Regions from separate parts of the Homo sapiens genome. Here region 2 is linked to region 1. A link means that fine-mapping ties the variant in region 1 to the expression of a gene that starts in the linked region. Tissue or cell type: aorta. Region 1 holds a variant in brackets; the other region holds the start of a gene. All regions are shown on one strand. Distances are between the middles of the regions.

The links. PIP is the estimated chance that this variant, and not a neighbour inherited with it, causes the effect. A credible set is the group of variants that fine-mapping cannot tell apart.
Region 2: it holds the start of GPC5, and the variant in region 1 is the best candidate, but not a certain one, in a credible set for the expression of GPC5 in aorta (GTEx, PIP 0.76).

What each region holds. Positions count from the first base shown.
Region 1 is chr13:91,332,310-91,340,363 of GRCh38, forward strand. No RefSeq gene overlaps it. Among named protein-coding and RNA genes, the nearest start is that of MIR17HG, 11 kb to the right of the region's middle. RefSeq lists a silencer at 4,249-4,423. The variant C/T (reference allele first, on the strand shown) is at 4,607.
Region 2 is chr13:91,394,613-91,402,666 of GRCh38, forward strand. It overlaps GPC5 (glypican 5), which reads left to right and starts at 4,009. Exons shown (of 8, transcript NM_004466.6): 1 at 4,009-4,597. The coding sequence starts at 4,435. It overlaps LOC124903189 (a long non-coding RNA gene), which reads left to right and starts at 2,265. Exons shown (of 2, transcript XR_007063831.1): 1 at 2,265-2,549; 2 at 2,734-2,976. RefSeq lists silencers at 3,823-4,117, 3,824-4,093.

The DNA of each region.
Region 1 (8,054 bases):
TTTGAAAGTACACTTGATTAATATTTTGTTTTGTTTTAAGATGAGGTCTTGCTTTGTTACCCAGGCTGGTCTCAAACTCCTGGCTTTAAGCCATTCTCCCACCTTGGTTTCTCAAAGTGCTGAGATTACAGGCATAAACCACCACATCTTGCCTTAGAATCCACTGATGTTAATTATAGTCACTCTACTCATCTATTGAGCACCAGGTCTACCAGGTCTTAGTTCTGCGAAGTGTACTTTTGTACCCATTAATGAAACTCTATTCATCCCCTCTTTTTTCTACCCTTCCTAGCTTCTGGTAACCACCAATCTGCTCTCTATCTTCATGAGATTCACTTTTTTTTTTTTTTTGAGATGGACTTTAGCTCTTGTTGCCCAGGCTGGAGTGCAATGGCACGACCTTGGCTCACCGCAACCTCCGCCTCCTGGGTTAAAGCGATTCTCCTGCCTCAGCCTCCTGAGTAGCTGGGATTACAGGCATGTGCCACCATGCCCGGCCAATTTTGTATTTTTAATAGAGATGGCCAATTTTGTATTTTTAATAGAGATGTTGGTCAGGCTGGTCTGGAACTCCTGACCTCAGGTGATCCACCTGCCTTGGCCTCCCAAAGTGCTGAGATTATAGGCATGAGCCACTGCACCCAGCCAGAGATTCACTTTTTTAGCTCCCACATATGTGTGAGAAGATGCAATGTTTGTCTATTGTACTTGGCTTATTTCACTTAACATAATGACCTCCAGTTCCATCCGTGTTGCTGCAAATGACAAGATTTTAATCTTATTTAGGGTTGAATAATATTCCATTGTGTATATTTACAACATTTTCTTAATCTGTTTATCCATTGATGGACACTTTGTTTAATTTCATATTTTGGCTATTGTGAATAGTGCTTGTATTAGTCCATTTTCACATTGCTATAAAGATACTTCCTGAGACCGGGTAATTTATAAACAAAAGAAGTTTAATTGATTCACATTTCCACATGGCTGTCGAGGCCTCAGGAAACTTCAATTACAGCAGAAGGCGAAGGGGAAGCAAGGCACCTTCTTCAAAAGCCAACAGGAGAGAGAGAGAGAGCAGAAGGGAAACTGACACTTTTAAACCATCAGATCTCATAAGAACTCATTCACTATCACAAGAACAGCATGGGGAAAACTACCTCTATAATCCAATCACCTCCCACCAGCTTCCTTCCTTGACATGTGGGGATTACAATTCGAGATGAAATTTGGGTGGGTACACAGAGACAAACCATATCAGTGCTATAATAAATATGGGAATGCAAATCTCTTTGATATATTGATGTCTTTTCTTTTTTTCTTTTCTTTTTTTTTTTTTAGACAGGGTTTCACTCTGTCTCCCAGGCTAGAGTGCAGTGGCATGAAAATGGTTCACTGCAGCCTCAAACTCTTGGGCTCAATTGATCCTCCTGCCTCAGCCTCCTGAGTAGCTAGGACTACAAGTGCATGCCACCACACCTAATTTTTGTATTTTGGGTAGAGATGGGGGTTTGCCATGTTGCCCAGGCTGGTCTTGAACTCGTGGGCTCATGCAATTCACCTGCCTCAGCCTCCCAAAGTGCTAGGATTGCAGGAATGAGCCACTGTGCCCAGCCTGATTTCCACCAACAGTGTATTTACATTTCCACCAACAGTGTATGAGGACTCCCCTTTCTCCACATCCTCACCAGCATCTGTTATTCCCTGACTTTCTGATAAAAGCCATTCTAATTGTGGTGAGATAATGTCTCATTGTGGTTTTTATTTGCATTTCTGTGATTAGTGATGTTGAGCATGTTTTGTATACCTGGGGGCCATTTCTTTGTCTTCTTTTGGTAAATGTCTATTCAAATCTTTTTCAAATGTCTTTTCAAATCTTTGCCTATTTTTTAATCAGATTATTTGTTTTTTTGCTATTGAGTTGTTTGAGCTCCTTATGTATTCTGGTCATTAATCCCCTGTCAGATGGATAGTTTGTAAATATTTTCTCTATTCTGTGGGTTGTCTTTTCACTTTTTTCATTATTTCCTTTTCTGTGTGAAGTTTTTTAGCTTAATGTATTCCCATTCATCTATTTTTGGCTTTGTAGTTTGTGCTTTTCAAGGTCTTAACACAAAAATTCTGGGTGTAGCCCAATGTCTTGTAGCATTTTTCCAATGTTTTCTTCTAGTAGTTTCATAGTTTCAGGTCTTAGATTTAAGTCTTTAATCCATTGTGATTTCATGTTGGTATATGGTGAGAGATAGGGGTCTAGTTTAATTCTACTGCATATGATTATTGTTTGCCTGGCACCATTTATTGAAGAGAATCTTCTTTCCTCACTGAGTGTTCTTGGTGCCTTTGTCAAAAAATGAGTTGGCTATAATGTATAGACTTATATCTGGGTCCCGTATTATGTTCCATTGGTCTATGTGTCTGTTTTCATGCCAGCTTTTTTTTTACACCATGATAGTTTGGTTACCATAGCTTGGTAATTTATTCTGAAGTCAGGTAGTGTGATGCCTCCAGCTTTGTTCTTTTTGCTCTGAATTGCTTTGGCTATTGGAGGTCTTAGGTGGTTCTATTTATGTTTTCGGATTTTTTTTTCCATTTCTGTGAAGAATGTCATCAGTATTCTGATACAAATTGCATTGAATCTGTAAATTGCTTTGGGTACTACTGTCATTTTAACAATATTAATGATTCTACCAATCAATGAGCATAAAGTATCCTTTTTTTTTTGTTTCTTCTTCAATTTTTTTCATCGATGTTTCATAGATTTCCTTGTTAAGATCTTTCACATTTTTGGTTAAATTGCCTCCTAATATTTTATGTTCTTTGTAGCTATTGTAAATTGGGTTGCTTTCTTGATTCCTTTTACAAATTGATTACTGTTACTGTATTCAAAGACTGCTGATTTTTGAATGCTGATTTTTTTTTTTTGTTTTTTTTGAGACAGTCTCACTCTATTGCTGAGCCCGGAGTGCAGTGGTGCAATCTCAGCTTGCTGCAACCTCTGCTTCCCGCATTCAAGAGATTCTCCTGTCTCAGCCTCCCGAGTAGCTGGGACTACAGGCACATGCCACCACGCCCCTCTAATTTTTCTATTTTTAGTGGAGACAGGGTTTCACCATGTTGGCCAGGATGGTCTCAAACTCCTGGCCTCAAGTGATCTGCCTGCCTCGGCCTCCCAAAGTGCTGAGATTACAGATGTGAGCCACTGCACCCAGCCTTGATTGTATATACTGCAACTTTACTAAATTTATTTGTCAGTCCTAACCAATTTTTTGGTGAAGTCTCTAGTTTTCACTAAATACAAGATCAGGTCATTGCATTCAAAGCATATTTGACTTCTTCCTTTCCAATTTGGATGTTGTTTCTTTCTTTATCTTGCTTAATTGCTTTAGGCAAGACTTCCAGTATTATGTTGAATAAAACTGGTGAAAGTGCATCCTTGTCTTGGTCCAGATCTTAGAGGAAAGGCTTTCAATTTTTCTCCATCCAGTATTATGTTAGCTATATGTTTGTCATACATAGCCTTTATTATTTTGAAGTATGTTCTGTCTATACAAAGTTTGTTAACAGTTTTTATTACAAAAGGATGATGAATTTTATTGAATGCCTTTTCTTCATCTATCAAAATGATCATATGGTTTTTGTTCTCTGTTCTGTTAATGTGATGTATCACGTTTACAGATTTGATTATAGTGAATTATCCTTGCATCCATTGGATGCATCCCATTTGATCATGTAAATGGTCTTTTTAATGTGTTGAATTTGGTTTGCTGCAATTTTATTGAGAATTTTTGCATCTATGTTCATTAGGGATATTGGCCTGTAGTATTATGTTTTTTTGTGTCCTTGGGTTTTTTTGTGTGTTTTATACATATACATGTGTGTATATATATGTATATATATGTGTATATATGTATATATATGTATGTATATATGTGTGTATATATATGTATATATGTGTGTATATATGTATATATATGTGTGTGTATATATATACGTATATATATGTGTGTGTGTTTTATATATATATATGTATATATATGTGTGTGTGTGTATATATATATCAGAGTAATGCTGGCCTCATAGAATATATTTGGAAGTATTCTCTCATGTTAAATTTTTTTTGATGAGTTTGAGGATTGCTATTATATCTTCTTTAAATATTTGGTAGAATTCAGTAGTGATGCCATCACATCCTAGGCTTTCCTTTCTTGGGAGACTTTTTATTATCACTTTGATCTCATTAATCATTACTGGTTTGTTAAATTTTTCTGTTTCTTCAGGTTTTAATCTTGATAGGTTTTATGTGTTTAAGAATTTATCCAAGTCTTCTAGGTCTTTTAATTTGTTGACATATGATTGTTTGTAGTGGTCTCATAATTCTTTATACTTTTGTGGTCTCAGTTGTCGTTTCTCCTTTTTGTGTCTTATTTCACTTATTTTTGTTTATTTCTCTCTCTTTTCTTTTTTAGTTAGTCTAGCTAAAAGTTTATGGATTTTATCTTTTCAAAAAACCAACTTTTTATTTCATTAATTTGTGTTTTTTATCTCAATTTTATTTATTTCTGTTCTGATCTTTATTATTTCTTTCATTCAATTTTGGGGCTTGGTT[C/T]GTTCTTGTTTTTCTAATTCCTTGAGGTACATCATTAGGTCATTTATTTGAAGACTTTCAACTTTTTTAATGTAGGCATTTATTGCTATAAACTTCCATCACAGTACTGCTTTTGCTGTACCCCATTGATTTTGGTATGTTATATTTTCATTTTCATTGGTTCCAAGAAATTTTTAAATTTTCTTCTTAATTTCTTCGTTGACCCATTGGTCATCTGGGAGCATGTTGTTTAATTTCTGTGTGTTTGTGTAGTTTCCAAGATTACTTTTGTTATTGATTGTTAGTTTTACTTCTTTGCAGTAAAAAAAAAAAGCTACTTGATATCATTTCTACTTTTTAAAATTTATTGAGACTTGTTTTGTGGCCTAAAATATGTTCCACTCTGGAGAATATTTCATGTGCTTATGGAAAGAATGTGTATTCTACAGAAGTTCGGACAAATGTTCTATGAATATCTAGTTTGTCTAGTGTGAGGTTTTAACTCTGATGTTTCATTGTTGATTTTCTGTCTAGGTACTCTGTCCATTACTGAGAGTGGGATGTTGAACTCCACTACTATGACTGTATTGCAGTCTATATCTCCCTTTAGGTCTATTAATGCTTGTTTTATATACTTGGGAGCTCCAGTGTTGGGTACATAGACATTTATAATTGTTATACCCTTTTACTGTATTGACCCTTTTATCATTATATAGTGACTGTCTTCATCTCTTTTTATAATCTTTGACTTATAGTCTATTTTATCTGATACAAACAGAGCTACTCTTGATCTTTTTTGTTTCCACTTGCCTGGAAAAACTTTTTCCATCATTTCTCTATGTGTTAGTCTATGTGTTTCTCTACAGGTAAGGTAGGTTTCTTGTAGGCAGCATATAGTTGGGTCCACTTCTTTATCCATTCAGCTACTCTATGCCTTTTAGTTGGAGAATTGAGTCTATTCACATTCAGTGTAATAAATAAGGACTTGCTACTGCCATTTCGTTGCTTATTTTCTGATTGTTTTGTAATTCCTCTCTTCCTTCTTTTCTTGCTGTCTTCCTTTATGGTTAAGTGATTCCCTCTAGTAGCACTGTTTAATTCATTGCTTTTTATTTTTAGTGTATCTATTACAGGTTTTTGCATTGTAGTTACCATGAGGCTTACAAAAACATCTTAGAGATAAAACAAGTTATTTTAAAGAGATGACAACTTATCTTACATTACACACACACCACAAAACAAACAAAAGCTTTTAAAGAAAACTCTACACTTTAACTTCATCCTTTTCACTTTTTGACTTTCACTTGTCTCAATTTGCATATTTTATAATGCCTATCTCTCTTAACTTGTTTTGTAGCTATTATTGTTTTTGATAGATTTGTCTTTTAGGTCTAATATTAGAGTTCTGAGTCGATTGCACACAACAACTATAGTATTGGAATATTCTGGGGTTGTCTCTGTACTTAATTTTACCAGTGGGTTTTAAACCTTCAAAATTATTTTTGGGCATTAGTATTTTTTTTCCTTTTAGATTGTAAAACTCCCTGTAGCATTTCTTTTTAATATTGCTCCAGTGGTGATGAATTATTGTCGCTTTTGTTTGTCTGGGGAAGACTTTACCTCTCCTTCATAGTTGAAAAATAGATTTGCCGGACAAAGTATTCTTGGCTGGAAGGTTTGTTTTTTTTTTTCTTTCAGTGCATTGAAAGTGTCATTCTTCCTGGCCTGTGTGGTTTCCCTTAAGAAGTCTATTGCCAGATGAATTGGAATTCCTTTCTATATTATTTGCTTCTATTATCTTGCTGCTTTTAGGATAATTTATTTGCCTTTGACATTTGAGTGTTTGATTATTACATGCCTTGGGGTAGTCTTATTTGGTGTACTGTTTGGTGTACCTGTTTGGTGTACTCTGAACTTCCTGTACCTGGATATTTATATCTTTCTTAAGTTTTGGAATGTTTTCTGTTATTATTATTTTTAAATTAAGCTTTCTACCCCTTGCTCTTGCTCAACTCCCTCTTGAACAGCAACAATTCTTAGAGTTGGTGTTTTGAGGTAATTTTCTTTATCTTATAAGCAATCTACATTCCTTTTCATTCTATTTTCTTCTCTTCTGATTGTATAATTTCAAATAGCCTTCATTTAAGTTCACTTATTCTTTCCTCTGCTTGATCCACTCTGCTGTTGAGAACCTTCAATGTGTTCTTCAGTTCAGCGAATGTACTTCTCAGTTCCAAGATTTCCGGGTTTTGTAATTATTATTATTTCAACCTGTTTGTTAAATTTCTCTAATACATTTCTGAATTGTTTTTCTACATTATCTTGGTTATCACTAAGTTTTTCATACTGCTGTAAATTTTTTATACTGCTATAAATTTTTATACTGCTATAATTCTTGGTGAGAGAGCTCACATATTGCTCTCTTGTTAGGGTCAGTCACTGGCTCTTGCTTTGTCCATTTGGGAAGGTCATAGTTCCCTATTTGCTATCATTTCTTATGTCTTTGCATTGAAAAATTAGTTATTTATTTCAGTCTTCTGGTCTGTCTTGTTTTGATTTTTTAACAAATAAATAGCGTCTTGCTCTATCATTCAAGAAGGAGTTCAGTGGTACAATCATGGTTCACTGCCAACTCAGCTTCCTCGGCTCAAGTGATCCTTCCACCCCAGCCTCAAGAGGAGCTGAGACTACAGGCATGTGCCACTACACCTGGCTAATTTTCATTTTTTGTAGAGGCAGGGTCTCACTATGTTGCCCAAGCTGATCTTGAACTCCTGGGTTCAAGTGATCCTCCTGCTTTGGCCTCTTAAAGTGCTGGGATTACGGGCATGAGCCACTGTGCCCAGCCTTGTTTGTTTTTCATTGAATATGTTTGCTTAGAGATTCTTCATAATTTACCTATTGAGTTTCTTATGTTTTCCCACACTAAGTCACTACCTCCTTTTTGGTGCTAAATGGTGCCTAAAGCCCAGGTTTGTCTCAGCTCTGGCAAATAATCAGAACACTGCCCATTCAGAGTGGGAAAGATCCCAGAGGGGATATCTGTGTAGTGTTGAAAGACTTGCTAGGGGTTTGTGCCCAGGGGACCTGTGGAACATACCCACTTCAGCATGGTGCTGCTGAACAGCCATTCTAATTTGGCGTCTCCTTTGGCTGAGCTACACAGCAGAGTTTCCAGGGGTGGAGATGCTAGTCTAGCTTCCACCCTTTGCCACTGGCTGTCCTTAGAGATATATCTCTCTTCAGGCAATCATGATGCTTCCTGTGGTTTGAGGCATGGACAGGTCTCCCGCCAAAGAAAAGATGGTGGGGAAGCTGCTTGTCCACCTCAATTTCACTTTTTCTAGTGTAGAAAACATGAGTCAAGGACAAGTTTTTGCACACTGGTGCCAGTCAGCTTGGGATAAGGAGTGTTGCATATGTGAAAATCTGATTCTCTCACAGTCTGGTTGGAGAGTTGTTGTTGTTG
Region 2 (8,054 bases), 62 kb after region 1:
GAGGGATCCCCCTTTGTAAATTATACGAGATGATCAAACACACAAGACTGGACAGATGAGATTTACAGCAGTTTGTTAGTCACACATACTCATAGCCCAGGGGAGGAGGCTACCACATGCCATGCAGGGCCATACAGGGGAGGAGGGGCTTCATTTGGGAGCAGAGTGAACCTGCAGGAGTTGTGGGAGGCAAGCTTTGTAGTAACAAGAAGATGGTGTGTTGTGGGGAGGACCCCTTGGTTCCCACAGGAGGATGTGATTATCTTGTTGGACTAATTGCTCTGAAGGGAGGTGAAAGCCATTAGGTTGAAGACAGGGTGGGATGGAGCTGGTCCAGCTAAGGGAGGTAGCCAGCAAGCAAGACTTTCCATCTGGGTGGGGGGCATATCTGGCCAGAGCAGGAGAACTCATGACTAGGGACCTGTGAGGCTCAAAGATGTCAAGGCAGTTCGTGGGATTTTAGTGCTTGCAAAACAGTTCTCCTAGTTAAAAGCTTAGTGGAGGTAGGAAGTAGGAGCAGGTAGTACCTTGGCCAGCCCCACGTCAGTGAGGTACTATCAGGCCATCGTTGAAGCCAATGCAGAGCTCTGGACCACTATAACCAAGGTGTTCAGCAGGTTGTCCACATGGATAGCTGTGAGTACCAGAGTTTATATTTATATGATAGGTTGAGTTCAAGGGGCCACAAACCAGGTGTCTGGCTTTTCAGGCAGGCGAGTGTAGTGACTAAAGGGGTACAAAAGTTATGAAGCCTGGCTTGCATTTGGGCTCTTATCAGGATTTCTGGAAGGTTATTTAATCTCTTTGTACTTCAGTTTTCTCAGTAGTATAATAGTAACTGTCTCATGGAATGGTTGAAATGTTAAATGAGATAATATCTGTAAGTGCTTAATAAATCTTAGCTCTTGTCATTGACTGGGTATAAAAGTTACCCAAATCAGCTTCTGAGGGTAAACTAATTAGTGGCCAGTCTTAGCCTAAAAGAATAGTCAGGGTTGAAGACTCTGTGATATCATTAAATCACCTAAACCACACTGGAGGTTTTCTTTCTTTCTTTTTTTTTGTGAGATGGAGTCTCACTCTGTCCCCCAGGCTGGAGTCCTGTGGCACGATCTGGGCTCACTGCAATCTCTGCCTCCTGGGTTCAAGCGATTCTCCTGCCTCAGCCTCTTGAGTAGCTGGGATTACAGGCATGGGCCACCACACCCACCTAATTTTCATATTTTTAGTAGAGATGGAGTTTCACCATGTTGGCCAGATGCTCTCGATCTCCTGACCTCGTGATCCACCCGCCTCAGCCTCCCAAAGTGCTGGGATTACAGGCGTGAACCACCGCACCCGGCCGAGGTTTTTTATTTCTCTTTACAAGGTCCTAAGTTGACAAACTATAAACATATAAACAGTTACATAGAAAGTATCAGGGAAGTTTTGGATTTAGAATATTACTAAGCTGTATTTTAAATAATGACCATTTAAGGATTCTCCTATCCAAGGGTATTGGTATTTTGAAAGCAAAGCGCAATGCCTATTATATAAAAGACATTCAATACATTTTTTAAATACATTTTGTAAAATAAGGCATTATAACTATCAAATTATGGACAGTTTTCCCTAGCTTCATTTGTAATGTTTACCAGTAAATTGAATAAAAGGCTAGTTATGGTATAATTTGCAGAGGTTGCTCTAGAATGTTCTTATAAAAGGGATCGTGGCATTGTGTTCTGGGTGGAACTAGAAAACTTGTCTTGAAGCTTGGTAGCTTCAGTAGCAGGCATACTGTTGCCTTGCGTGGTGGGCTTAGGGATGCTAATAGGACAAGATGCCCTTCCAGGCCACATGCTGGCTCATCCACTTTGCTAGCAGTTATGGATAAGAGGTAGAAGGAAAATATATTTATTTTTTGTTAATGGGGATATTTTATACAGACTAAATATATTCTTGTTAGTTCCTATGGCATTTCTATAAATGACCTCCCACCTGTTTTGTTAACTTATAAAATCACTGAGAAAACTTGCTTGTGTGTCTCTTTAAACTCCTGTTAAGCCTAGAATAGCGGTTAAAAAAATTGTATGTTTTCAACCAATATGTATTAGTCAATTAGCTTTTACTGAACCATCAATACTCAGTTGTGTTTATGATTTTTATCCTTGCAAGACACACCGTTTTAGAGATTCCAGTTAATGGGATAGATGGTAATTTAAGGATCTTTTTGATGCTAAGAGTCTAAGATGATCAAATCTATCAAGGAGAGATCTTGGTAACAATAAAGATGTTTTAGAAAAACTTGGGAATTTATTAGCCTTATATAGAGATACACATAATTCCAGTAGAATACAGTTATATAGATAGAAATTATGCATATTTACTAGTAAAAAATCTGCTAAATGAATAAACAGCCCTTGGTGTTGCTGCCCAAAGGCCTTTGGTGAAACCTGATGGGTTTTTCTGTACCACAGAATAGTCAAGGAGAGCCTCTGGAGAAGAGCATGCGGTCTGGATTTGGAAGCCTCAGTTTGATTTCTGGCTTTGTCACTTACCTTAGGCATTCAGTAAGTCACTTCACCTCTGTGTTCCTGTTTCCTCATCTGTAAAACAATGATAATAGTAGTAACTACTTTATAAGGTTGTTATAAAGATTACATGAGTGAATTCATTTCCATAAAATACTTAGAATATTATCTGGCCCATAAGCACTATATACATTCTCATGGTTTTTCTTGTTTCTTTTCATAGATATAGGTGGCTTCCAGACAATCTTTCCATACTTGGTGGTTAGAGCAGAAGAGATTCATGAAGAGCACTGCCCTTTGAAACAAAATCTCATATTCAGAAAACTGATGCCAAACACCAAGTAGCATGATTTCACTCTGAAGCAGTGTTTCAGCCATTGCCCTGGAATGGTTTTAAAGCAAGTGATATACTGCTGAAAGTGCTGCCTTTGATATTAAATGTTCATTAAAAATCTTCACTAAGACATAAAGTTTTTCACTACTATCTCTTGGTAAGGGTTCAAATTTGAGATGAAATTCCTTAAAGTGGTTAAAGCATTCATTGTCCCCTCTGCCTGATGCTTTTAACTAGTTTATTTTACAGAAGGAGTACTCTCTTCAAGTGGCTGTAGATTGAGACACTCTTACAGGCTTAGTTGTTGAGTCAACCACATTTAAAAAATGCACCTGCCCTTTGGTTTATGGTGCGTAATGCATTCCTCTCATAAACTGTAAATTGACAAAATTCCTTTGCCATTTTAAAATTGCTTAAAGTATTTATTTTTCTATATTCCTTGTAAGGAACTCCCCTGAGCACTCTTAACTTAATTGCTCTCTGAAAAATATTTTAAAGAAATTCCAGAAGTGGTAAAGCTCAGAGGAGCCCCACAAATACAAAGTGCTGAAGTAAAATATGATGCTAAATGGTGATAAGAGACTTAAAACTAGATTTCATTGTGATAAGAATGTGATAAAGTTTGATTGTAATTCTTATACCTCCTTTCAGAAAATCATGTTATAGAAAAATGTTCCTAAGCAGTAAAACAAAGCCATTTTAAAAAATAACTTCTCATGTGCACTCTTTAACAACCTAAGTGTTATGAAGTCTCTCAATTGAGATCTTTAACCGTAAATAGTTTTTGCCTTTTGTATTATGTCCAGATCCTATTTAATGCAATTAGAATACAAATTCCTATGTACTGAGGACCTTGATTACATAGATGAGATATTTCTTAGTTCCAGTTGGTGTTTCTCATCTCTTGTCTTCTCTGACCCTATTTATACATTCTCTGTTTTTATCAGATGATTCTTCCCCAGAACGGACTGGGAGAGCGAGGTCCGGGTTTCCTTCTATTTATTTGCATCGATGTCGCTCCGAGTCTTCAGCACTGGGCCGCGTATGACAGCATCTTAGTGGGTGCGGAGCGGGACAGCGCGCCGGGGGCGTGGCAGGGGCGTGGCCTGTCCGCGGGGCGGGGAGTGCGGGGCGGGGCTTCCGCGGAGCGCAGCGAGCGGGCACATCCCAGGTTAGCTGCTGCGAGCCGAGCCGGGCGGCGGAGGCGGCGGCGGCGGCGGCAGTGGCGGCAGTGGCGGCAGTGGCGGCAGCGGCAGCAGTTGCAGCAGTGGTGGCCAGAGCGGATGCTTGCGGGCTCCCTGCGGCTCCACTAGTTTTCTTCGCCCCGCCCAGCCGCCCACTCTTCTCGGCTAGGGAAGAAGACCAGAGGGTGCTCAGCTGGAAAACTCTGGTGTCTCAGCTTAGGGCCTCCTCCGGGAAGAGCTAACTGCTCCCAGGTGAAGCCGGTGCCCGCGGGCGGTCCGTACACCCCGCAGCCGGCTCGCACCGCTCGAGAGCCTCGGCCGCTGTGTCTTCCACGTCTGCAGCTCAGCCAGGGCGCGCAGGGCGAGTGGGGTCCACTGGCGGGTAAAGGGGACCAGGACGGCGAGGATGGACGCACAGACCTGGCCCGTGGGCTTTCGCTGCCTCCTCCTTCTGGCCCTGGTTGGGTCCGCCCGCAGCGAGGGCGTGCAGACCTGCGAAGAAGTTCGGAAACTTTTCCAGTGGCGGCTGCTGGGAGCTGTCAGGGGGCTGCCGGATTCGCCGCGGGCAGGTAAGGGGCAATGAGGGGGTCTCTGGACTGGCGGCGTCCGAGCCCGGCCTTCGCTCCCCCAGGCTCCCTTGGTGGCACTCGTGGGAAGATGACCTTTCGGGCCCTGCAGCCGCGCAGGGTGAATCCCGGGGAGGCTTCCGGGGATGCTTGGTGCGGGTAGCCTGAGTGCAGCGCAGCGCAGCTCTGGGGACCCCTAACCAAGCCTGCGACGAATCCCCGTTCTGGGCATCTGCTTCCCGCCCGGCTCCCTTCGTCTTGGAGGATGAGTTGGAAGGAACCAGGAAAGCAGACATCAGGGCGTGGGGGACACGCAGTCTAACTCCGTTTCTCTTCCGAGTAGGAATTTCCCCAGTGCCCCACCGGGGATTTCGGTTTACTGCTTTCTCATAAGGTGGAGGGAATTGAATTGATCGCCCCAAGTTTGGTACTAAAAATCACAAACCTGCGATATACCCCTTTGCTGGAGAATGGGGCACAGACAAGGGCAGCCGGTCTCCTCTGTAATTAGGACTTGGACCCTGTGCACCCAGAGACGTGACCCTTAGCTGCCCTTCTGTGCCCTCGTATCAAGCCCTGCTTGGAGGAAACCCAACCACCCAGTGTGTCTCCCAGCACCAAGGTAGTTTTTAGCCTGAAAAGTGTTAGGGCAACAGGCGATCAAACCGAACGTACTGGGGAGTCACTTGACATGGATGAGATGTACCAGCGTTCCAAAGGGAAAGATACAGTTTGTGTGGCCAGCGTGGATCTTGCTTCCTGTGAGCGCCTTTTGCCTGTGCTTTCGAACCCTGCTCCCCGTTTCCACCGCACCAATTTCCTTCTGCTGGTGGGAGTTCCAGTGTAGGTTCTGTCTGGAAGAATAGGTCATAGCTGTCAAACGCAATAGCAGGTGTCTAGAGCTAAGTAAGATCTCACTAGAGCCATGCACCCCTTTAGCTGTGACTATGAAGCCAACACAGACGAATCTGTGAGGTTACTGGTTGAACAAAGAACTTGTGGAGGACGCTTAAGTCTAAAGTCCCGAGTTTCCAGGGTTGGGGGACTTGCTTGTAGCAATGAGGAAGTGTGAGCTGTAGCCGCTTTTCTTGATTGCTTTGCTCAATTTTAAGTCATCCCAGAAAGAAAATCTAGGCATTCGGGAACACTGACTCCATTTGAGTTTACATGACCAGTCTTAAACCCAGCTATTTCTTTGTATACCTGTTTGGTACTAGGTGCTTTTTCTGTATTACTTGAAACAAAGTTGACATTCTCAGTTTAGGGCGATTCTTCTATCCCCAAATAAAATATCGCCTTATAGATCTGTATTTTTCTTAGTGCATTCTTTTCATTAGGAAATAAATCTCACTTTATTGGCTGCTGATAAAACTAAAGTGAGTTTGTGCGTGTGGGTGGTGAGGGTGTTATGATGTGAGATCTTTACCTGAATTATTAGATTTTTAGTCCCCAAATATGGTAACTTTGCCTGCTATGTTCACCGAATGTTGATGGCCAGCCCCTTCTCCCCAGTAAGGCCCTGATTTCACTCCACTCTGGTATCTCAGTATTTCTGGTATCTGCTGAATGCAACACATTGATTGGGTGTTCATCTCTTTTAAAGATGAACTTTCCAGAGTATCAGTCACTGAGACAGTGTCTTACCAGGATGTCAGGGAAAACTAAAGCTCTGTCCTAAGGAGAGGGAAATGACTGTAATTATTTGCATTTGATACACATGACACACAAAAAAGTTCCATGACGACAAGGAATCTTTCTTTTCTAAGTCACTCTGGATTGTTTCCCCATTGCTAGTAGATTTTTTAAATCTGTGGCTGAAGGTGATGGAGGAATCACGGGAGCACTCACAGAAGAGGCTTAGAGACATCAGTGGTACTGGTGAAAAGAAATGCTAAGTTCCTTTAATATTTTCACTAAGAAAAAGTCACACAAAAGTGCTATGCTGATTTAGATCCACCCCCCAAAAAAGGCATTCATATAGGAATTTGATATAATTCTGAAGTTTTGTGTCTGTATTGTTGGTCATTCTTTTACAAATAATTCAGCAAAATATTAAACTTTTTTAAACACTGATTCCTCTCATCTCTCTAAAAAAAAAAACCCCTCAATCCCAAATTGAGTAAACCAAACATACCACATGCTTAATAAATAATTTTCTTTCTTTTTGTATTTATATATGATCTACAACATTTAACATGATTGAATATGGTAATTGACTATCATATTTTCTAAGATTATCCTCAATCTCAAGAGAGAACATAATTTAGTCATTTCTCCATGAGAATACAAATAGTAATATCTTTTAACAAATCTATTCATTTAGCACATACCCTTTCACTGACTAAAACAAACACATTTAATTTGATTTTGTTTTTGGAAGTACGTATTTTTACTGCTTTCTTGCATTTCTTGTTCACAGTGGTTAATCCCTGAGATGTCTAGCCAAAACACAGTTTGTATAATATAAGCAGGTAGAATAAGTTTTTAGTTTCTTCCTACCTTTGTGACTTTTACTTTTTCTGATAAAAATGTTATCCAAATTGAAATTATTAAAATTGTGAGAGCAGTGATTTAAACTGTTTCTCAGATTCCCCTCACCTTTGTTCTCTACCCTGCTCCAATTCTTTTAAGCCTATTGAGCTCCTAAGGATGTTTGGATGAGAAATGTAAAAAAGGAGAGAAGGTGTAAATGTGATTAGAATTAGAGATTTCCCTGTGTTCCGATTTTATTTTCTAAGTAGTAGTCAAGGTGCCCTTTGCTCTTGTTTATTTTATTCAGAAAAGAACTGTTACTGAAAGTGTCTTTTAAAGGTCTTTTCATTTTTATTTTATTTATTGGGGATGGGGATAATGCTTTTCTATTAAAATTCTCTTTGCACATGCATTGTGCATTGTTCACACATGCAGTAGTTCCTCTTTTAGAGGGTAGTTCAGAAAGGGGAAGTTCATAAAAAATAATACATTTAGATAATTTATATACCAACTATTTTTTGAAATATGCATGTTTGTTGATATAGAAATCTATAGCAAGTATACTCTCGATATCAAGTAGTCTGTGAAAGTAACTTTTCCTTGGTAGATTTTGGCTATAAATAGAGTAATAAAAATAAACTCTTGACATGGCTAAGTGAAATTTTAATACTAAAAGACACTGTAAGCAGTGCTCTGAAGTTGTTGTTGTTTTTTAAACTGCTTTCATTATAATCAAATCTTATTATTGCTCCAAGGACAGTGTAGTTTCATTCTCACACCTAAGAAAAATGATCTGCTTGGTAACCTTGGAGTTTGGATTTACTGGATAGACATTTGGCTTTCAAAACTTGGTTCTACCACTTGTAGTTCTGCTTCATAGACAAATTATCATCTTGAACCTCTGTTTTCTCATTTAGAAATAGGAATATTCTTAAAAAGTGTTTGCATAGATAAAATGAAATAATGTAAAATGTCACAAATCCAGGCA